Linked DNA regions of Homo sapiens: all the other regions are reported to be linked to region 2. Evidence: microRNA targets listed by miRTarBase, many of them from high-throughput screens and not tested one by one. Region 2 holds a microRNA gene; each other region holds the end of a gene's coding sequence.

Evidence for each region. The annotated mature microRNA hsa-miR-122-5p reads UGGAGUGUGACAAUGGUGUUUG and lies in region 2 at 2,299-2,320, shown strand. An mRNA with a match to its seed (bases 2 to 7 or 8) in the 3' UTR can be bound and repressed. Matches are read on the target gene's strand: a 7mer-m8 pairs with bases 2 to 8, a 7mer-A1 pairs with bases 2 to 7 and ends in A, and an 8mer does both.
Region 1: the mRNA of SLC38A9 is a reported target of hsa-miR-122-5p. The part of its 3' UTR that is shown has no 7-base or 8-base seed match.
Region 3: miRTarBase lists BORCS7 as a target of hsa-miR-122-5p. Seed matches in the 3' UTR shown: 7mer-A1 at 767-773.
Region 4: miRTarBase lists SNX22 as a target of hsa-miR-122-5p. Seed matches in the 3' UTR shown: 7mer-A1 at 1,981-1,987.
Region 5: the mRNA of SLC7A11 is a reported target of hsa-miR-122-5p. The part of its 3' UTR that is shown has no 7-base or 8-base seed match.

The regions. Positions count from the first base shown.
Region 1 is chr5:55,622,714-55,627,743 of GRCh38, reverse strand. It overlaps SLC38A9 (solute carrier family 38 member 9), which reads left to right. Exons shown (of 16, transcript NM_173514.4): 16 at 1,085-1,896. The coding sequence ends at 1,250. Among named protein-coding and RNA genes, the nearest start is that of SLC38A9, 87 kb to the left of the region's middle. RefSeq lists an enhancer at 1,588-2,402.
Region 2 is chr18:58,448,790-58,453,819 of GRCh38, forward strand. MIR122 (microRNA 122) reads left to right here and starts at 2,285; the gene lies at 2,285-2,369. MIR122HG (MIR122 host gene) reads left to right here. Exons shown (of 3, transcript NR_170245.1): 2 at 520-751; 3 at 2,030-2,492. MIR3591 (microRNA 3591) reads right to left here and starts at 2,363; the gene lies at 2,291-2,363.
Region 3 is chr10:102,862,533-102,867,310 of GRCh38, forward strand. BORCS7 (BLOC-1 related complex subunit 7) reads left to right here. Exons shown (of 5, transcript NM_001136200.2): 5 at 341-2,429. The coding sequence ends at 392. It overlaps BORCS7-ASMT (BORCS7-ASMT readthrough (NMD candidate)), which reads left to right. Exons shown (of 15, transcript NR_037644.1): 5 at 341-400. Among named protein-coding and RNA genes, the nearest start is that of AS3MT, 4.5 kb to the right of the region's middle.
Region 4 is chr15:64,154,314-64,157,313 of GRCh38, reverse strand. SNX22 (sorting nexin 22) reads right to left here. Exons shown (of 7, transcript NM_024798.3): 7 at 1-2,927. The coding sequence ends at 2,806. It overlaps PPIB (peptidylprolyl isomerase B), which reads left to right. Exons shown (of 5, transcript NM_000942.5): 4 at 405-589; 5 at 1,169-1,497. The coding sequence ends at 1,291. Among named protein-coding and RNA genes, the nearest start is that of SNX22, 4.1 kb to the right of the region's middle. RefSeq lists enhancers at 2,868-3,000, 2,903-3,000.
Region 5 is chr4:138,168,660-138,173,689 of GRCh38, forward strand. It overlaps SLC7A11 (solute carrier family 7 member 11), which reads right to left. Exons shown (of 12, transcript NM_014331.4): 12 at 1-3,358. The coding sequence ends at 3,297. SLC7A11-AS1 (SLC7A11 antisense RNA 1) reads left to right here. Exons shown (of 7, transcript NR_038380.1): 4 at 58-159; 5 at 2,874-3,047. Among named protein-coding and RNA genes, the nearest start is that of LINC00616, 40 kb to the left of the region's middle.

The sequences.
Region 1 (5,030 bases), not on the chromosome of region 2:
AGTTAAGATGCTCATTATCTTCCCTTTCTGTTTGTTCTGGTGGAGAACTCACTCTAGAAGCTCCATTATCCCTTAGCCTCAGGCATCATTTTCTTTTTCTTTCTCTCATCATCTTCCACTTTATTTCCTCTCTATATCCAAAATAAAAAGTTATTTTTAATATATGTATAACTTTTTGGGATTACCTGGGAGGTCCTTTATTTGTCAGAGCTTCCTTAATCCATTCTAAGTTCCTTAATCCATTTCTACTCAAAAGTATTTTTCAATGTCAATTGTAGTCAAAAAGTAAGAGTTTAAGTAAGAATTTAGACCCTAGATGGCTTTCTTTAATATCCTTTTCCTAAAAACGTGACAGGATGAATAGAGTAGGAATAAAGTTGTACCTCAAATTCTCATGGGAAATTGGGATTTAGAATGATCTGATTTCTCTTACTATGGACAGCAGGAAGGAGTCATTTTTTTTGGAACACTCTTACCTAAGAAAGTAACAAGGAACAAGAAGGGGAGATTGTTAGCCTGATGCTTATTGAATATAAAGGGCTTACCAGTTCCTATTGAACTGTTCCTCAAGAAAACCCAAGTATAGAGAAAAGGAGAAGAAAGTGCATATTTCTCTGTCACAGTCTCATGTTTAAGTATTTTTGTTATTATCTTTCGTAATCATGCTGAATGCCATGGTAGCATTTATCTGTTCTTATACTTAAACCGGGATGCTAACGGTCCCTCAAAAACTGAGAATGAGTAATTAGTTTATAAAAGATCAAAGATAGGAGGCCTAGCTCCAGATGTTTCTGAGGAAGTAGCCACAATCACCAAATACAGAGGAACTACAGAGATTTGAGGGATGAATAAAAAGTCTTTGTTAAGCAGATGCTATAAAGATGAGCAGGAAATCATATTTTATATTAACTTAGCAAGTAAAGTAAGTTTTAAACCCAGATGTTTTATGTCAACAACAAATGAATCAAAAATAATTTTTGTTGAGCTATCAGACTGAGGAGGATTTAAATTGTACTATGTTTACCTTAATTGTAAAAAGCAAAGTGCAAGATGAATATTAACCCCAAAAGCTTTTATTTTGCAGATATTCAGGAGCAGCATGTGGACTGGCCTTTGTATTCATATACCCATCTCTCATCTATATAATTTCCCTCCACCAAGAAGAGCGTCTGACATGGCCTAAATTAATCTTCCACGTTTTCATCATCATTTTGGGCGTGGCTAACCTGATTGTTCAGTTTTTTATGTGAAATACCTCAACTGTTTTTTTCAAGAGCTCTCATGATATTTTGAGCCTTGACAACAGTTCTATATAAATTCACTTGTAAATGCTGCTGTTGTGTAATTCTAAATATTTTCTAAGATAATTTGAAAGCAAGGGAAATAGTGGCCCCTTAATGAGTATTTTTTTATTGGGGTGGGGAAAGGGGCAAAAAGAATGATCTTAGTGTCTTTACCTTTCTCATATTAACTCACCTCTTTATTCTGTGGTCTTTTCTGAATAGAAATGTATGCCCTAGGAAGAAATCATGCTGGGTTTTGCTTTTAGAGATAAAAGGTGGTGGATTTATTTTGCCTGCAGTAAAGATTCTCAGGGTGTCAGAGCAGCATATTGTCAAATCCTGCTTCTGTTTTATGTTTCAGTGTATTCACTTTCATTTTCTTACTTACTAGACCATTTCTGCAGTTTGCCCAAACCTCTACTGTTTGGGACAGTAAGCCAAATACCTCATTTTTAAAAAGAAGTTTTCATGGCATCAGTGTTAATAAAGTACATTTTTAACTGAGTCTTAATCTCTATTTGAAGAAAAAGTAGAGACAAAAGTAATGTCAATGTAATCCCCAGGATCATGAAATGTATACAAAATAAATAAAGTAGGAGAGTTTGTTGCTGTCTAACTCCTCTTTTATTTCTAATCCAGTACCAGTGACTTAGATCGAAATTACAGTTCCCCAAGCCAGACTTTGCATAAGAACAAGAATGATTGTCCCCATAGACCCAGGGGGTGCTTTTGCTTTTTGGATCCCTGAGATCCCAGCGTAGGCTGTCATGATGGACCCAGTGGGGAAAGCATGGCAGAGAGGAGCCTGAGAGGCCCATAGGGGAGACGGCGAACAGAGAAGGGGCCAGGGAGGAAGAGGCCTCAGCCCAGCATATTTTGTGTCCTCTGGGGGTGGACTGGTTTCTGCACCACAAAAAAGGATTGATTTTGTTTGAGGTATGACCTTCAGAAAGAGACCTCCATCTGCTTACTTCTGTAACTGGCAGTACTGTTACAGGAAAGGGGTCCTGATCCAGACCGTGAGAGAAGGTTCTTGGATCTTGCGCAAGAAAGAATTCCAGGCAGGTCCACAGAGTAAAGTGAAAGCAAGTTTATTAGGAAAGTAAAGGAATAAAAGAATGGCTACTCCATAGACAAAGCAGCCCCGAGGGCTGCTGGCTGCCCATTTTTATGGTTATTTCTTGGTGATATGCTAATCAAGGGGTGGATTATTCATGCCTGCCCCTTTCAGACCATATAGGCTAACGTCCTGACATTGCCATGGCATTTGTAAACTGTCATGGCGCTGGTGGGGGTGTAGCAGTGAGAAGACCAGAGGTCACTCTCATTGCCATCTTGGTTTTGGTGGGTTTTAGTCGGCTTCTTTACTGCAACCTGTTTTATCAGCAAGATCTTTATGACCTGAATCTTGTGCCGACCTCCTGTCTTATCCTGTGACCTAGAATGCCTTAACCATCTGAGAATGCAGCCTGGCAGGTCTCAGCCTCATTTTACCCAGCTGCTATTCAAGACAGGAGTTGCTCTGGTTCACATGCCTCTGACAGTACAGAGTTAAAACCCTGTGAGAAAAACTCCTTAAATCTGAGAAAAAGATTAAGGAATCTGGATCCTTGGAATCGACGCTCTTCCCTTATTTCTTCTGAACTAAAAGCTAAACTAGTATCCACATTCACGTTTTCCAAGTAATACAGCCTCTGTGTCCAGGTCAGGATACAACATGGTGATTTTTTTTTTCTGAAAAAATTAGATTTCTCTAATTTTAAGCTAAAGTTTAAAAATCTATTGTATGTTCACCTCTCAGATAGTGTATGGATTTGTGTTATTTCCTTCCTTTGAAAAAGAAAAATGGTTTTTGCAAACCTAGTAAGGAGCCCAGATTCAAGATCAGCCTTAATTTCTTTCAGCAAAGCTTTCTGTCCTATTCATAAAGCCATAGACCTATATTAATGATGAACTGTATTTCCTAAAGCTCGTTTGTTTTAATAAAAAGTCTCATTATGAAAATCTCAAGCCCACACAAAAGTAACATGGAGTAATACGGTGAACCTCACAATGCCTATCCCCTAGATTAATAATTATAAAACTTGGCTGTATTTGCTTCACCTATCTTTTTTTTTCTTTTCCACTGAAATATTGTCAATCTCAGATGTTATTTCATCACTACAAACCTTAATTTACAGCTATTAGTAATAGCCTTTTGAACATAGTTACATTGATGGAAATAGTCTCAAAAGTTTTTGTTCACATAAATTGCTGGTAGTAGGAGTTCGGTTAATTGGAAAATTCTGCAGTAGGTGTCAGATCACTGTGTTAATTTCTCTTAGAAAAGGAGTATAATGAATGGAGAAAGTGCTTCTCTGTGCTTGAGAGCCCCTGAATCTTTATGACTTCAGAATCTTATTCAGTTAAGAGACATAGGATTCAAAAGCCAGACAGCACTGGGAGCGATCTAGGCTTAATCCCAGTTTATCCCCAGTCACCTTCCTTCTCTGTAAAAACTTCAGAAACAGGGCTGGGCACTGTGGCTCATGCCTGTCATCCCAGTTCTTTGAGAGGTGGAGACAGAGTTTCATTGCCACTTTTCAATAATGTACTTGAATGTTTTAACACATGGAAAAAATGATTTAATATATTTTTGTCCATTTAATGAACTAAGTGAATATGACAATGAATGAGGTATTTACTAAACTAAAAGACAATGTGAATCTTTGCTATTGTTTCTTTAAAAGACTTGATGTGAGGCCGGGCATGGTGGCTCATGCCTGTAATCCCAGCACTTTAGGAGGCCAAGGTGGGCGGATCACATGAGGCCAGGAGTTCAAGACTCAGCCTCGCCAACACAGTGAAACCCCGTCTTTACTAAAAATACAAGAATTAGTTGGGCGTGGTGGCGTGCACCTGTAATCCCAGCTACTCAGGAGGCTGAGGCAGGAGAATTGCTTGAACCCAGGAGGCGGAGGTTGCAGTGAGCCAAGATCACGCCACTGCACTCCAGCCTGGGTGACAAAAGCGAAATTCCATCTCAAAAAACAAAACAAAACGAAAAGACTTGATGTGGGCACAGCTGTGATCCCAGCTCTTGGAAGACTGAGGTGGGAGGATCACTTGAGCCCAGGAGTTCAAGACCAGCCAGGACAACATAGTGAGACCCTGTCTCTACAAAAAAATAAATTTAAAAAAAATTAGCTGGGCACAGTGTCATGCAGCTGTAGTCCCAGGTACCCAGGAAGCTGAGGTGAGAGGATTGCTTGAGCCCAGGACATCAATGAGCCCTGATTGTGCCACTGTACTCCGGCCTGAGCAACAGAGTAAGACCCTGTCTCAAAAAAACAATTTTTTTAATTAAAGAAAAAAATAATTGGCTGGGTGTGGTGGCTCACACCTGTAATCCCAGCACTTTGGGAGGCCGAGGCAGGCAGATCACCTGAGGTCGGGAGTTTGAGACTAGCCTGACCAACATGGAGAAACCCCCATCTCCACTAAAAATACAAAATTAGCCGGGCGTGGTGGCGTGTGCCTATAATCCCAGGTACTCAGTAGGCTGAGGCAGGAGAATCGCTTGAACCCGGGAGGCAGAGGTTGCAGTGAGCTGAGATCGTGCCATTGCACTCCAGCCTGGGCAACAAGAGTGAAACTCCATCTCAAAAAAAAGAAAAAAAGACTCGATAATTTAGAACTTCTAAAATCTTGTATTAGACTTACGCTGTATGACTTTGCCTTCTTAAGTTTTTTTTTCATGAGATCAAC
Region 2 (5,030 bases):
AAGGAGAAAATGAAAACAAACCATAATTTCTCTACTGAAAGATAACCATGGTTAACATTTGATGTTTTGGCCTCAGGCATGTATGCATTTTTTCACAGAAAGGGACTCATACTGTGTATATTGTTTTATAAACTGTTTTTTAATTCAATAACATATCTTGAATTTCCAAGTCTACCAGACTTTTCTACAGAATCAATTTAAATAATTATGGTCTATCATAAATATATTACTCTTCTCCTATAGCTGGACATTTAGGTTGTTTCCAATGTTTACCCTTATAAACAATGCCACTATGAGCAACCTTATAGGTAAATCTTTCTACAAATTTTTGACATTTTCCTGGAGATAGATTTCTGGGCCATAGAAATTGAGGTTGATTTGGGGTGGGGGGAGTTGGTAAGATTTACCTGTAAAGGTTGATTTGGGGGGTGGGGAGTTGGTAAGATTTACCTGTAATGCATTAACTTCCTCATCTCTTTTCATCTTCCATCTGTTCCTTCCCTTTTCTGTATTTTGCAGATTATTCAAAGCCAAAAGCCAACAGAGCCCCCATGGAGAAGTGGAGGATGCTCAGATACTGCTATGGAGCCCTGAGAAGTGAAATGGGTCCAAGCCCTTGCCCAGGATAGAGCGCTCCAAGCGCATCCTCCGGGGACCCTTTTAATCAGTGAATTGTTCACCTCTCACTGTTTCTTCCCAGCAGAGCTAAGAGACTTCTAGAGCCTCTTGTGGATGGTCAGCGATAGCCCTGGTATGACCAGGAGGTGGCGATTTCTGTTCTAGGTCCCTCAGCAAAGACTAAGCAGGACAAGCCTGGCTACTGTGTTAGGAGGAGCTGTAGGGAAAGGGAAGGACAAGATGGGCCACCACATGCCTGTGTCCACTGCTGGCCACACCCAGAGTGCTAGGGGTTTGTGGCAGTGACTGGGGCCACCTAGAGCAGTTCTAGGGTTCGTAGTCATTCTCTCTGAGTCATGGAAAACTGCCCAGGAGGCGAGTCCCACCTAAGAGAGTATGTGTAGCACTGGCACGGCCTGCTGCCTTGCAAATGACCACATTTCATGAAAGAAAGCCAGGGCCACAGACAGGAACCAAAGGAAATCAGTCACTTAGGGGAAGATAACGAATCCACAAAGTGAAAAAGGGAAAGAAAAAAAGAGGCAACTTCAACACTCCAACCCATGGGAGCAGAACGACTTTCAGCTTTCGCAGGGGGATAATCACTGCAAGTCCAGCTTGAAGAGGGTGATTTCAGGATCTACATGAGAATAAGGCGCAATTTTTTTTTTTTTTTTCTGAAAAATACGGAAGGGTTCATTTACAGCTGTTAAAGATGGGCCGGTTTTAGGGCTAAAGCAAGACTCTGGTCAGATGTTAACAACTCAGTTATCCTGGGGAAAAAATAACTGGCTCCCAACCCTTTCCCTTTTCAGCATTTGCAGGAAAAGAAGGAGTAGGTAAAATGCTTTATTTCCTCTCATTCTCCATGGTGGGCAGGAGTTCACATAACAATTATAAACCATCTTTAACAGGAAAGCCAAGTAAATCCTGTAGGGATTTATTTGGAGCTCCCTTTTTGCTAGAAAATGAGTATCATGAACTAAAAATGGACTCGTTTCCTCTCTCTCCATCTTCCTCTCTTTCTTCTCTCCCCTCATCTCCCACCCACCGCCATGGTGGAAAATGACTGTGGTCAAGAAGATTGAACATTTGAGCAAGACCAGATGCCTTTATATCCAATAGATGCCACGGAGAGTAGATCACAACACATCTAACTGCTGTATCCCCATATAAAATAATTTTAATTTTCCTAGACTGCAGAATTGATCACATTTACTGATGATGGATTGGGAAGTAGGTGAAGAGGTGAGAGTTGGAGAGTATCCATTCATTCGGCCAGATTATTCTCATTTATAATGTAGTCTTCCAATAAGTATTTATTTCCAGAAATCTATTCCCTCTAGAGATTCTTTCTCTCTCAGCCATTTTAGAAAATTGTTGCAAACAGAGTTCCTGTCCATTTTCACAGGAAGTTTTTGCAGAAGGGGTTTGCTGGGTGGCAGTGGAACACAGGCAGTGGACCCCTCTACTACTCTACTGTTCCAGAACACAGAAGCCTTTCATTGAGAGTGTTCAGCTCTTCCCATTGCTCAAGATGCTTGTACCCGTGATGCTTCTTTTCTCTGCTTAGGTCACAATATGTGGAGCTGACAAGGTTCCCCTATTATCAGTGACAATGGTGGAATGTGGAGGTGAAGTTAACACCTTCGTGGCTACAGAGTTTCCTTAGCAGAGCTGTGGAGTGTGACAATGGTGTTTGTGTCTAAACTATCAAACGCCATTATCACACTAAATAGCTACTGCTAGGCAATCCTTCCCTCGATAAATGTCTTGGCATCGTTTGCTTTGAGCAAGAAGGTTCATCTGATATCAGTCTTCTCAATCTTGTGTACTTACTGAATAAAGTCTGGCTCTTTTGCACTCATAACCAATATGGTTAGCTGAACCCTGCCTCTCACATGCTGTTGTTACATACCTTAGCTGGTGATTAATTTTCTTGTTTTCCCAAGTCAATAAAAAGATTGCAGACCAGGCACGGTGGCTCACGCCTGAAATCCCAGCACTTTGGGAGGCCAAGGCAGGCGGATCACTTGAGCTCAGGAGTTCAAGTCCAGCCTGGGCAGCATGGTGAAACCGTGTCTCTACAAAAACTACAAAAATTAGCCAGGCATGGTGGCATGTGCCTGTAATCTCAGCTACTTGAGAGGCTGAGGTGGGAGGATCAATTGAGCCCACGAGGTTGAGGCTGTAGTGAGCTGTGATGGTACCACTGCACTCCAGCCTGTGTGACAGAGCAAGATCCTGTCTCAAAAAATGAAAATAAAAAGATTGCAGAGTTCCTCAGAGCCCCCAACACAAGGCCAGGCACGAGGTAATCATTTAACCCATGCTTATAGACTTAAAATGAATAGTTAGGAAAGTGTTAGACGCAGAAGGCTAAGACTGGGCTAAATCTATGTTATGCAGACAGACCGCAAGCTTATAGGTACAAAATTAAGGTGTGTGGGTCCTTCTCTTTTCGTCGTTAAAAAATCCAACTTTCTAATAAACTTACACATGGTTTCACTGACGTTTCAGAAATTCTAGAATATGTTTGATTTCTACTGATTTCAATCAATTACTAGGCTGATTACTGAATTCGTACACTAGGCCTTTCTTCCTCTTGCATCAGTGAATTACCATCAGAAAATTGTTTATGAAGCATGTGTGAGCTGCCATAGCAAATCTGGGACCCATGCAGTTTCTAGGACAGTTGGCCCAGCCAGGTGCTCTGGTTTGGAACCCATTCTGTCTCTGAGAGGTGTCTAAAGTCAGGAGTAGGTTTCGTTTGTGCCAGACTAAAGCTTCCCTCCCCAGGCTTGGTTAAATGAAGTAGGACATGTTTAATCAAATAGACAGGGTTAGATCAACCATCAGAAACAAATTCAACCATTCAACCATTCACTTATGAAATAAATATGTGTAGAGACTACCGTGTGCCTGACACTGTCCTAGGCATTGAAGACACTTTTAAATTAAATGTGTCTGATGTTATTTCCAGAGATGGGCATTCACTGGCTCGCATTATATTTTGGGACCATTGTAATTGTTCCAAACGGGAGCCAAATGAGCAAAACTTTGCGAAATAATTCTGAGTCCCTTGCTGGAAAGCCTCACCTGAATGCAGCCCACACATTTATGATACACTACAAAGGCTTCAAGGTCATGAGATGCCTCTGTCCAAAGAAGAAGAAGAGCACCCCTGCCTGCCCTGCATCTCTTACCACCTCTCATTTCTTCCCTCCTGGCACCATCTACTGTCAAGAAGAGAATCAGACTCCCTGAAATAATTGAGACACTGACATTCCTTTTTGTGTGTATTTTTTTGGCAAAGGCTCTAATTGAACAGGCATTAATAGAGGGCTCTACTGTTATACAGATCACGCTCATGCACACTGTATTAGTCTGTGTTTTCATGCTGCTGACAAAGACATACCCGAGACTGGGAAGAAAAAGAGGTTTAATTGGACTTACAGTTCCACATGGCTAGGGAGACCTCAGAATCATGGCGGGAGATGAAAGGCACTTCTTACGTGGCATCAGCAATAGAAAATGAGGAAAAAGCCAAAGTGGAAACCCCTGATAAACCCATCAGATCTCGTGAGACTTATTCACTATCATGAGAATAGCAGGGGAAAGACTGACCCCCATGATTCAATTACCTTTCCCTGGGTCCCTCCCACAGCACGTGGGAATTCTGTGCGATACAATTGAAGCCGAGATCTGGATGGGGACTCAGCCAAACCATATCACATGCCATTTCATTTGATCCATACAACATGGGGCAAAGATGATCGGTTTGACAAACAGAGTCTAAAGGGTTCTGGAATCGTCTGGTCCTCCAGCCACAACTCAACATGGATCTCTTAAGTCTAAAGTTCTGTCCTGTACCTGCAGCCTCCTTTGGCCTAGTTATTTTGTGAAATCTCATGCTTCACAGTCGAATCTGTGTAGAACCTGGGTTAATCACGCCAGTATGCGATCAATATCCTCATCTCCCCATCTGCTTTGTCAGTGGATTCTGAGGGAAAACCTGTAAATTAGAGAGGGATGAGCCATATAAGAATGTCTCCTTGTGAGTGTTCATTGTGCAGAGAAAGCTGAAAATTGCAAAACCCTGTAATCATGAAATGAAAGAGAAGGAACATCTAAGTGGTAGCTTTGGGGTCAGGAAGAGGGTAGACAAACTGTCCCAACACCAAGCAGCCATCTACATGACCCAGCCACCTGATGTGGCACCAAATGACCCAGAGTCTTGAGGTTCTGAACTGTTCCCAGACTCGGGGACAATGTGAGGACTGGGTCTTCCATGCTCCTTTTCACTCCCACTCACCCTGAGATTTTTCTCAGGTGGAATTAAACAGGGAGCCAAGTGAATAGCATTCTGTGTCTTTTCTGCTAGGTTGGCTCATTTAATGGCTTATTATGAT
Region 3 (4,778 bases), not on the chromosome of region 2:
GTTTACATTACTAATTGGCTTTGCAAACCTTTCTTCAGAGTTTAAACACTTCTGGGACACAACTGGACCAATATAAATTTTGATTTACATGCAACAGTATTTATGCATTAAAGTACAGATAGCTTGTACAGGACAGGTGTAGTGGCTGGCTCATGCCTGTAATTGCAGGACTTTGGAAGGCTGAGGCTGGAGGATTGCTTGAGCCCAGAGTTTGAGATTGCCTTGTGCAGCATAGTGAGACCCTGTCTGTAATGGAAAAAAAAAATTTGTAAATAGTTGTACAAAGATGTCTTTATTATTGCTCATTTCAGATAAACCCTGTCTCTATTCTAATTCCTAGTGTTGAACAGTCATCGGATCTACAGGACCAGTTGAATCATCTGTTGAAATAGAATGACATGTAAGAGTGCTGTAGGACTCCTTTGCCTAATGCTGAGGAGTAAATACCTTACACAGCTGTCCTCTGGGTTTGGTTTTCTATTTTCTTCTCCAAAAGTTAAGTTAGAAAAGTTCTGTGTTAGGGCCGGGCGCGGTAGCTCACGCCTGTAATCCCAGCACTTTGGGAGGCCGAGGCGGGTGGATCACGAGGTCAGGAGTTCGAGACCAGCCTGGCCAAGATGGTGAAACCCCGTCTCTACTAAAAATACAAAGAATTAGCTGGGCGTGGTGGCGGGCGCCTGTAATCCCAGCTACTCGGGAAGCTGAGGCAAGAGAATCGCTTGAACCCAGGAGGTGGAGGTTGCAGTGAGCCAAGATCGCGCCACTGCACTCCAGCCTGGGCGACAGAGTGAGATTCCATCTCCAAAAAAAAAAAAAGAAAAAAAAAAGAAAAGTTCTGTGTTGATGTACAGTTTCTCCTAAGAAGAAGCGAGGTGGTTGAATTTTGGAAGCACTTCTTGAATCGGATTAACCCATGCTCTTATTGAATTTTTTCATCTGCTCTGTTTAGTTTGATATTAAAGCAAAATTAAGAGGTCTTAGTTTTTCCTATAGAACTTTTAATATGTCAAAAGCTATATTGTCTAAATTTCAGTACTTAAGCAAATACTGAGTAGTGTTTTAAATTCAGAAATAGAGCTTCTATTATGAACACATGAGAATGATTTTTTTCTCTTAATCATTATTAAGGAAATATTTTAATTTCATGGTCATATAATGGTGATAAGTAATACCTGATTGTTTCCTTTTCTGTTCTAGTAACTCAGAGGAGATACGTGTTTTATTTGTGATAGCAAATTCCTAAATGAACATTAGGCAAGTGGTATCATTATCAGGCCAGCTGCAGCCTCTTGCCTTGACCTGCATTCCTAGAATTTCTTTGTTGCTGTAATTCTTGATTAAGTGACCTTGACTTTCATTTTGTAATTTTGCTAATCATCAGCAAATTCACTTGCATGACGTTACTGCCAAATATGAAGGCAGTTGAATTATTATGAGTGATTGTGGCAGAGGTTTGTGCCATGGTGAAAACTTTGATGTTTGTCTGTGTTCATTGGATCCATCTTTTTAAATGACATTACCATGAGTCTGTTGTCAAACCTAAATATCTTTGTTTGAATTTAAAATGGGACTCTATATTGTTGTAGTTCAGGTCTTCATTGACTAAGAGATTGAGAGAAATCTGACATAAGAAAATATTGTTTTCACTGCAGGAATAAAGAGGAAGTAACAGTGAATCCAATATAGTTCATATTGTTATTGTCCAATCATCAAGTTAACTAAGCATTATCAGATTACGTTTATTTCTCATACATATGGATATTAACTTAAGGTAAAAAAGCTGGATGTGAAGGATCTGAAAAGGCATTAATTTATGTACTAATTCTATAAACATGTATTAATAATTGCAGTATTATTAAATACAGATGGACTCAATGTACCTTTGAAAAGACCACTAATTTAGAAAACAAAGCTAAGTGCAGTCATTACAAGAAGCAAAGAAATACTTAAGTTAGAAAAAAATTAAAATGAAGGGATGGTCTAAGTTTTCTTCATGCTGGAACAAATGTTAAAGAAGCAGTGATTGCTTACAATGTATGTGATAAAATAATACCTTTCACAATCAAAATTTTAATAGTAAATATAAGATAAAATTTATATTAAATAATGAAAACGTATTTGTACTGAATTTAGTCACTAGAGAACATCGTAACAAAATACATGAAACAAAAGTAGCCAGAAATGTTAGAACAGGTGGAAATGTATACATTATTTGATGGTTTGTTTTTTTATGGAAATAAACAACATACATAGAATTAAATGGTGATCAAAAACATGGAAAAAATACTTCACTAAATAACGTCTAAGTTGTAGAGGTTGTGCCGGAAGATAATATTTTTAAAATAACAAATGTTCAAATGCCATAAAAGAAAATTTGTGTGATAATACCAAAGCAGTACTATAAGAAAATAAGCATGCTTTAAATCCCTGTATTAGGGATAGAGTGGAAATATTTTTGTTTTTTTTAAGGGGTATATAGTTAGAATTTAGAAAGAATGGAAATGGAAATAATAAAACTAAACAAATTAGAAAAAAATAACAAATTAGAAAAAATAAAAAGTATTAAGTAGTTCTTGTAGATTAAATGGGTAAAGTGTCAGCTCAGCCAGAAAAGTACAAATTAGTAAATTCGTAATTGAATAGGCAATACATAAAATCAATGAGATTTGAAAAGAGTTATCAGTTTGCTGCAAAAAATGTGATTAATATATGCCCAGCTCCTTATAAAGATAAAAAATTATGAAACTGACACTTTTAACAGAGAATATTCCAGATTGGTTATGAGAAATAACCCACAAACTAAGAATAACCAATTAAAATGGCATTTGCTTGTGAAAGCTTTCATGAGACTTTTCCAAACTGTCAAAGAACATATACTCCTGGCCGGGTGTGGTGGCTCACGCCTGTAATCCCACCACTTTGGGAGGCCGAGGCAGGCGGATCACAGAGTCAGGAGTTCGAGACCAGCCTGGCCAACATGGTGAAACCCCGTCTCTACTTAAAAAATACAAAAATTAACCAGGCATGGTGGCACATGCCTGTAATCCCAGCTACTCAGGAGGCTGAGACAGGAGAATTGCTTGAACCCAGGAGGCAGAGGTTGCAGTGAGCCGAGATCGAGCCACTGCACTCCAGCCTGGGTGGCAGAGCAAGACTCCATCTCAAAAAACAAAACAAAACAAAACAAAAAACCCCTATACTCCCAAAATATAGAAAATGATCATAAGACACTAATTCATTTAATGAAGTAAACAGGATTTTCATTTTAAAAATAAAATTATGTAAGAAAGATGATGCAAGAGGATGTAAGATAATGTAGGTGATTTTTTTATGAGTATAGATGCAAAAATCCGAATAAAATCTTAGAAAACTGAATAGAGAAATATTTTGAATAATTGTTCATGTAACTCCAGAATTTCAAAGTTGATGTAATAGTTACAAAACACATTACATTAATAAGAAATAATAAAATCTTTTGTCACTATAATATATACCAAAAAGGCATTTAAAATACACTTTCTATTTCAAAAAAACTAAAAGAATTTTTTAAAAGGGTATGTTTTAAAACCCAACATAATATTTGATGAAGAAGAGTCGTATAAAACCCCAGAATATTAGAGCTGTATGGGGCCTTAAAAGTTATTAAATTCTGGCCCCATGTTTTACAGATGAAAAAAACACAGCCAGGAAGATGAAATGACTTACCCAAGGTCACTGAGCTTGATGGTAGGTCTTTTGACTACTAGTCTGGCTCTATTACCTGTTAGTTTCCTTATGCATAGAAACAAGGGTGCCACCTTCATTACTAGTCTTCAACATAATACTAAAGAGCTCTTAGAAAAGGAAAGGATCTTGAAGTAGCTGAATCCAATCCATTTGCCCCTGCTTCTGCATCTCAGGTGAGCCATCATCCAGTCATTCATCTGCTTCTGCTTCCGATATTTGGGGAATCCTTTACTTAGGAGTGCTGATCCTTTTGGAAATCTCCACTTCTTGAAAGATGGTTCTGTGTAATTAACCAAAATCTGCCTTTCTGGATAATCCTGGAATTGTCACTCCAGTAGCTTCCAAGATAGAATGTGTGACGGTGTGCACAGGCCTCTGTTAAAGGGTAGGGGAGAAAATTTCTATGTATGTTAGTTTTTTATCTTAAAAAAATTAGCTTTTGTGAGGCTGGGCGTGGTGGCTCACGCCTGTAATCCCAGCACTTTGGGAGGCCGAGGCGGGCAGATCACGAGGTCTGGAGATTGAGACCGTCCTGGCTAACACAGTGAAACCCCGTCTCTACTAAAAATACAAAAAATTAGCTGGGCGTGGTGGCGGGCGCCTGTAGTCCCAGCTATTCGGGAGGTGAGGCAGTAGAATGGCATGAACCCGGGAGGCGGAGCTTGCAGTGAGCTGAGATCCTGCCACTGCACTCCAGCCTGGGTGACAGAGCGAGACTCTGTCTCAAAAAAATAAAAAAGCTTTTGCCAATATTTAAAATATGACTTGATGTGAGAGTCTTAATTTCTTCTACGCAGTATACAGATATATAGCATTCCTGTCATTTAGCAGGGGTGATAGTAAAACAAAAAAACAAAAAACCCCACAAAACCTGTGGTGAGGCACTGACCAATCAGAATGATTGATGGTCACAGTCTGGTCCAAAATTAGCCCCCACACCAGACACCATGGAGGAAAAGTGAGAGTAACTCAATTTAAGTTGACAGTGGTTTGTTTTATTGCAGTTTATCTGTGTGTGAATAGGTAGATTTAAGGATTGTTGGCCAGGTGTG
Region 4 (3,000 bases), not on the chromosome of region 2:
AGCCACAGCAGTCCTCCTTTTCTGGAGAGTTCCGACCCTGTTGACTCCCCTGCATCCTGCACGGCACTTCCCTCCACCAAAGTCCCTCCGTGGCAGGCCTGGGCCATAGCTAAGGGGAGCTGATAACATGCGCCTTATTTAAAAGCCACAAAACTATCTTCTCAAAGTAATCCTTCTGTGAGCTGTTCACCACATCAGCCTGGCCTGATGCCCCACTTGGCCTCAGTCAGCATGGCTTGGCTCTGAGGCCAGAAGATAGGAAGGACGCTGCTTTTATGTCCTTGTAGTCCACTCCAGCCTAGCCTGGCACAGAGGACAGGTTAAGCCCCCTCAGTCCTGGCCCCGAATGTCTGCTTGGTTTGGCGCAATCCAGCGCCCCTGACCTGCTCTGTCTTTTTTCCCAGGAAAGAGCATCTACGGTGAGCGCTTCCCCGATGAGAACTTCAAACTGAAGCACTACGGGCCTGGCTGGGTGAGCATGGCCAACGCAGGCAAAGACACCAACGGCTCCCAGTTCTTCATCACGACAGTCAAGACAGCCTGGCTAGATGGCAAGCATGTGGTGTTTGGCAAAGTTCTAGAGGGCATGGTGAGTTGTGGAAGCAAGGGCTACTACTGGGCAATCCTCACCGGGGATTCAACACAGACCCCAGGGCAGGAGCTCCATGTGTCCATCCCTTTCCCAAAAGGACCCAACCCACAGATGCAGCCCAGTGCTCCTGTCCAGAATAAACCCTGTACCTCCATGCCTCCAAGGTTCTAAATTCTTCCAGCCCCCTCAGAGCCCAGCCAGGAAGGCTGCACAACTGCCAGAGCCTCCCTCCCCTCCTTCACTCAGTGACGTGCTGGTCCCACCCCTGAGGTATACAGAGTGCAGCTGAACGCAATGTCCCTGAGAAGCCACATGCCCTGGTCACCCTCTTCCTCCTCCTCACCCTTGGCCCAACCTGGGTCTTACTTCAAAGGAACAAAATTCCTGTACCCCCTCGTCAAATCTGCATTCTCCCTGCTCTGGCCAGGAGTCTGTTAGAATTTTGGTGCCTCCAGTTTTGTGTGCTGTTGATCACTTGTGGGTCTTAGCCCTCCTGAGCCATACGCTGGGGCCTTTCTCCTGAGCGGTGGACCTCCTGATCCACCATGCCCTCCTGCTTCCACCTTTCTTTTCCAGGAGGTGGTGCGGAAGGTGGAGAGCACCAAGACAGACAGCCGGGATAAACCCCTGAAGGATGTGATCATCGCAGACTGCGGCAAGATCGAGGTGGAGAAGCCCTTTGCCATCGCCAAGGAGTAGGGCACAGGGACATCTTTCTTTGAGTGACCGTCTGTGCAGGCCCTGTAGTCCGCCACAGGGCTCTGAGCTGCACTGGCCCCGGTGCTGGCATCTGGTGGAGCGGACCCACTCCCCTCACATTCCACAGGCCCATGGACTCACTTTTGTAACAAACTCCTACCAACACTGACCAATAAAAAAAAATGTGGGTTTTTTTTTTTTTAATATATAATGTGTGGGCCTGGTTCTTGAGCCTGCAGCACCTCCCCTAGGCCTACATCCCAACATGCCTGCAACTCTCCTGTGGCAATGGGTGCCTGCCCCTTCCCTGGGATCCTGCCTGAAATTTTGACCCAGGAGCTACCCAGGAAAAGTCAGGCAGGAGCTTTTGCCCCCTGCTTCTAAACTTTGCCAGCTACTGGGCCTCCACATTTGCTCCCCTTGCCACCACCCTCCAGTCTATGTTAAGGGATGTATCTGTACTTTTTCATAGCCTACCTCTAAATTGATTTTTTTTTTTTTTTTTTTTTTTTGGTAGAGACAGGTCTCACTATGTTGCGCTGGCTGGTCTCAAACTTCCAGACCCAAGCATCCTCCTGCCTTGGCCTCCTAAAGTATTGGGATTACAGGCATGAGCCTCTGCACCCAGCTGACTTCTTCCTTTATTATTTATTTATTTTGAGACGGAGTTTCACTCTTGTTGCCCAGGCTGGAGTGCAGTGGCGCGATCTCGGCTCACCACAACTTCCGCCTCCTGGCTTCAAGAGATTCTCCTGCCTTGGGCCGAGCACGGTGGCTCACGCCCGTAATCCCAGCACTTTGGGAAGCCGAGGCGGGTGGATCACCTGACGTCAGGAGTACAAGACCAGCCTGGCCAACGTGGTGAAACCCATCTCTATTAAAAATACAAAAATTAGCCGGGCATGGTGGCGGATGCCTGTAATCCCAGCTACTCGAGAGGCTGAGGCAGGAGAATTGCTTGAACCCGGGAAGCGGGGGTTGCCGTGAGCCGAGATCGTGCCATTGCATTCCAGCCTGGGCAACAAGAGTGAAACTCCGTCTCAAAAAAAAAAAAAAAAAAAAAAAAGAGATTCTCCTACCTCAGCTTCCCGAGTAGCTGGGATTACAGGCATGCACCACCACAATGCCCGGCTAATTTTGTATTTTTAGTAGAGACGGGGTTTCTCCATGGTGGTCAGGCTGGTCTCGAACTCCTGACTTCAGGTGATCCACCCATCTTGGCCTCCCAAAGTGCTGGGATTACAGGCATGAGCCACCGCGCCTGGCTGACTTCCTCTTTTATTACTTATCTTCTTGACCCTGCCTTGGCTGTTGGGCTCTAAGAGCATACAAATTCTACCACCTCCAGCTACCAATGCGAGCCAAGTTCTGAGCCTTGAGTGGGAATGTGGCACAACTGGGCACTGGGTAATTAAGTCCTGGGTCCAGGCCAAAGGAGGACCCAGCCTTATATGGAGTTCATAGGACAGAGGCACATGACTTTCTTAGGAGGCAGCCAAAGGCCTCTGGACTGATCAGGGCATCGGTGGCAGAGGAGCAGGGTGACAGGCCGCCTTTGGCTGGGCTTTATCTGGGCTGATGCTGAAGCTGTAGAGGCCCTGGAGCACACCATTCACCACCACGTTGGGCAGCGACTCTGTGGGATAGAATTAAACAGGTCTGGCCTCAGACCTGCAGCTCCTTGAGCTCCTGCTCATGGGCTCAGCCCC
Region 5 (5,030 bases), not on the chromosome of region 2:
AAACCGTCATGCATTGCTAACGTAACCTAATAAGCTGTCCAAATTTTGTGTCCACAGGGCTGAGGAGCTACAGTCTAAATGCATACGCATGTTGGGAACCGAAGTCAGCCATCTTCCCTAGGACAAATCTTTACTCTTCTAAAGAAGGACAAGAATAAGGTCTACTTTCAGCTAACCATTTATAAGGTTCAGTTTTCATTGGATCAAAGGAATATAATCTAATACTTTTTAAATGGGGTCAAAACAGTATTATAAGGAAAATATTTACTGCAAATATTTATAATTGTGTAAGGAGAATCATTCTTTTTAAAATCAAGTTGTGTTTTAGCTTTAGAATCTTTTAAAATCACAAGTATTTGAGAATCCATCCCCACAAAAATTAAAAAATACTATATTAGTTATTTTAAACAGTATTCATTACTTTTACTGTTTATGTTATAATAAACTTATGTATATAAACATTTGAATATGCATGGTACAAAGTACAAGTACAGAACATGTAGTAAGTAGTATGTGCATGTATGTGTGTGTGTGCATATCGTATAAAAATATGAGAAAAATTTTACTTATATAAAAACATATATATAAATAAGTGTTCAGGAGAGTTTTTGAGAATCTGCTTTACATACTGCAATTTTGAGTGAAAATTATGGATATTAATTTCCTGATTAAAGGAACTGTGTCTTCTCATGATGAGTCCTAAAAATAAGCCAAAATACTACTTAATCTCCATCACTTTTTTTCTTAATTACTGGCTGACTTTTTTTCTGCGTGAAATGGCATTACAATGGCAGGGAAATTTAATAATGCAAAAATCACTTTTGAAAATGAGAAAGAATAATTCTAGTTACCTTTTAAATTGATACTTTTAAAGAGAAATTCAAATCAAAAATAAATAAATTAAAGTCTGAGACCAATTTGCCACTGTGAATATAAGCACATTAACCCCAGGAAGAGCCAAGAACTACACAAACCTCTCTATGAGAATTTACCAGTCTTCTTTCATTTGGCAAGAAAAAGCTCAGGAAAATTTGCTTGTTTAAATTCTATGAGCCTAGTCTATGGGGAAAAAAAAAATAGGAATATGAAAGAAATTCTTACCTCCAGCAACATATCATAGGGAGAGATGTGGACAAATGAACAATATTTACTGGAAATAGGAATTATAAATCAAATTTTGAAAACCCTATGCTAAGGAAGGAAGGAGTTATTATAAATTCACTCAGAGACCCAAACGTTAGGTTCAGCTAAAGAAATGTCAGTCTTGGATATATATTAAATGTTTTCAAGAGCAAAATTGAAATTACTGAATTGGAAATGCTCCAAATTATAGGTCATCATTTCTACTTTGGACAATTTTTTATGAATTCTATGTTTGCCTTTAATAATTTTAATTGGTATAATTCTTTCAAAAATCCTTATTTTCAAATGGACAAAAATTAAAGGATGAAACATACTCTGGCCATGACTAACCATTTTACCTTAGATGTTTATAAATAACAGTTCAAAATTTCATCATTATATTACTCTCATTTGTAAGTTCCACTATATATATATATATATATATATAAAAAGTGTGTGTGTGTGTGTGTATATATATATATATATATATACACACACACACACACACACACATACACACACATATATATATATATATAATCTTTTTTTTTTGGAGATGGAGTCTGACTTTGTCACCCAGGCTGGAGTACAGTGGTGCAATCTTGGCTCACTGCAACCTCCGCCTCCCGGGTTCAAGCAATTCTCCTGCCTCAGCCTCCTCAATAGCTGAGATTACCAGCATGTGCCACCATGCCCAGCTAATTTTGTATTTTTAGTAGAGATGGGGTTTCTCCATGTTGGTCAGGCTGGTCTAGAACTCCCGACCTCAGGTGATCCACCCCCTCAGCCTCCCAAAGTGCTGGGATTACAGATGTAAGCCACCATGCCCGGCTCACAGTATTTTCTAATACTGGCAAAACAACATCTTCTGAACACAAACACTTATCCACAGATTCTCATTTCAATTTTCTTCTTATCAGTTGTCTCTTTTGCAAGTTGAATGATAATTAAGGTGTGGAAATTACTGACAAAGCCTAGATATAGAAGTGGAAATTTTCTAGAAACATCAGTTGTAAATCTTATTTACAGCGACATTTCTTTTGCAATTTTTATGTTAATATATGCCTTTTCCTAATTAATCTGGACAGTTTCATCTGAAGAGATATTTTAACAGAAGAATATAAAATGTATAAAGAAAATGCACAAACTGTCAAAATTCATCATCGTGTAAAAATAGCCATAAATTTAAAAAACTTCAGAATTACTAACATTGCATGTAGATATGATTACAGATATGGGACTATTATTTTGAACATCTTCTTTGTTGGTGATTTCTCTCATGTTGATAATGTAATTTGAAGGCTTAAAATGCATATGTTTAGATAGACTCATCAGGGGTAAGTTATTAGTGAAACAGGTGGTTGTTCTAATGAGGATTTAATACCAAACTAACTCTTGCTCTAAGATGTGTTATACACTTTCCTGATCAAACTGATGTGAAAAAAAAAAATGACAGATAACTAAAACTTCCTGATAATGAATGAAAAAACATCTGACATAATAAATTCTCAAGGATTTTTACTTAAACATAACTCCTGGATGTGTCTCATAAACAGTAGCCCCTAGAAACTCTTCTTTAATGTATTCAACAATCCCCACTGACCTTTGTTCAAAGTGCTCTGGGTATAATCCATTAAAGCATGAGTGTTTGTTATCTAAATTGGTATCTAAGGGGAAGCAATGCAATGTCAATGTAAAATAAATTTCTTTCTCTCCTCTTTGCCATAATCATGATGTATGCTTTTTTTCAGAATTGAAAACACTTTTCACAGTATAGACATCTATAGTGTGTAAAACCATCTTTACAAAACCCATATATACAGAAAAATCTCAGTCTTCAATTTGAAGGTTCTTTGCCGTGCTAACATATGTTGTAGAGAATGACCACATAGTAATTGTCTAGTCTTTTCTCCTAACCCCAATAGGTAGGTATCAGAGACTCAAGAATTGTGCGACTCATAGAATAACTGCATATTCACTTTCTATAACTACATAGAGTTATAACTAAATTTCTTAGAAATTAGTTCGAATATGCTAAAATATATGAATAAAAATAACTGACTCCTTTTGTTTATCACCAAAGTTGTAATTCTCTAGACTTTCAGAAAATGAAGTAAAAATCCCTATTTTGTGTCTCCCCTTGGGCAGATTGCCAAGATCTCAAGTCCATTAGTTCATAACTTATCTTCTTCTGGTACAACTTCCAGTATTATTTGTAATGTTCTGGTTATTTTCTCTACAAAGAAATAAAAATGAATTAAAAATGCATGGAAATCAGAAATGCATTAAAAATAGCAAAATATGAATTATTTTGGGTTGAATACCAAAAACACACAACTGTCTACTTCATAGAGCACTTTCAAGAATTATTTACTTCATTAGAATTCTATCATGCTCAATTAATTTATTTGTCACTTCTGTAACTTCCCATGATGGCTTCTCAGCAAGAATACATTAATATTTTGCATTCAAATAAGGATTTTTATTCATGGACCAGAAGGGTGAAAATATTTTGAAACAGTAGGACCAATATATAAATAAATGTTTAAAAATACACTTTATATCAGTTTAAAATTGGTTTATTCTTTTTGCACCTATGAGATTACAATCAGTTCCTCAGAAGAATCTGGAGGAGAATCAGAATGTAATTTTCATTCTCTAACTTGTAACATGTTATTGAGAATGTTGTCTTATCTCCTAGGGCCTAATTTGCCTAATCAGTAGAATGAGAGACTAAATCAGTGATTCTCAAAGTGCGGTCCCTGGACCAACAAAATTAGCATCAACTACCATACTAGAAATGCATCTTTTCAAGCTCGATCCTAGACCTACTCAATTAGAAACTGAAGATGGGGCCTAGCAGTCTGTAATTCTGATAGACACAAAAATGTAGGAACTGAGGGCATCCCAAGAAAGGCTGGCTCCAGTGTTCAGAAGGAAGTCTACCTTTTTTCCTTCAGAACCATTGAGCTAGATGATTTCTAAGGTCATTTTATCTTAGCAGTTCTAGAACTCTATGACCTTGGTTTCTGGGGACATTAGTTCTTGTTTGCCTCTTTTTTTGTTTTGTTTTGATTTTTTGAGGCGGAGTTTCACTCGTTGCCCAGGTTAGAGTGCAATGGTGCGATCTCGGCTCACTGAAACCTCCACCTCCCAGATTCACGCGATTCTCCTGCCTCAGCCTCCCAAGTAGCTGGGATTACAGGCATGTGCCACCACATCCGGCTAATTTTGTATTTTTAGTAGAGACGGGGTTCCACCATGTTTGTCTGGGTGGTCTTGAACTCCTGGCCTCAAGTGATTTGCCTGCCTCGACCTCCCAAAGTGCTGGGATTACAGGTGTGAGCCACCATGCCCAGCCAGTTTGCTTCTTATCTTTGTAATGAATTCCTACAGAACCTTTTCAATGTCCTGCTAGTCCTGGAGCTGTTTACAGCCTGACCTCTTGATGGTTTCAGGCCCAGATAGTCTTTCATCTGGACATAGAGTCTTTCTCCTCATTCATGGCTTGTTATCTGTAATAGCTCCTTTCAAGCCATATTTAATGACATTTTAAAAGGTATTTTTTTCAGGCCGGGTGCAGTGGCTCATGTCTGCAATCCCAGCACTTTGGGAGGCTGAGGTGGGTGGATCACCTGAGGTTGGGAGTTCGAGACCAGCCCCACTAACATGGAGAAACCCCATCTCTACTAAAAATACAAAATAAGCTGGGTGTGATGGTGCATGCCTGTACTCCCAGCTACTCAGGAGGCTGAGGCAGGAGAATCACTTGAACCCAGGAGGCAGAGGTTGCTGTAAGCCGAGATTGCACCATTACACTCCAGCGTGGGCAACAAGAATGAAACTCCATCTCAAAAAAAAAAAAAAGTATTTTTTTCATCCTTTTCTTCTGTGTTTGTCAAAGATAC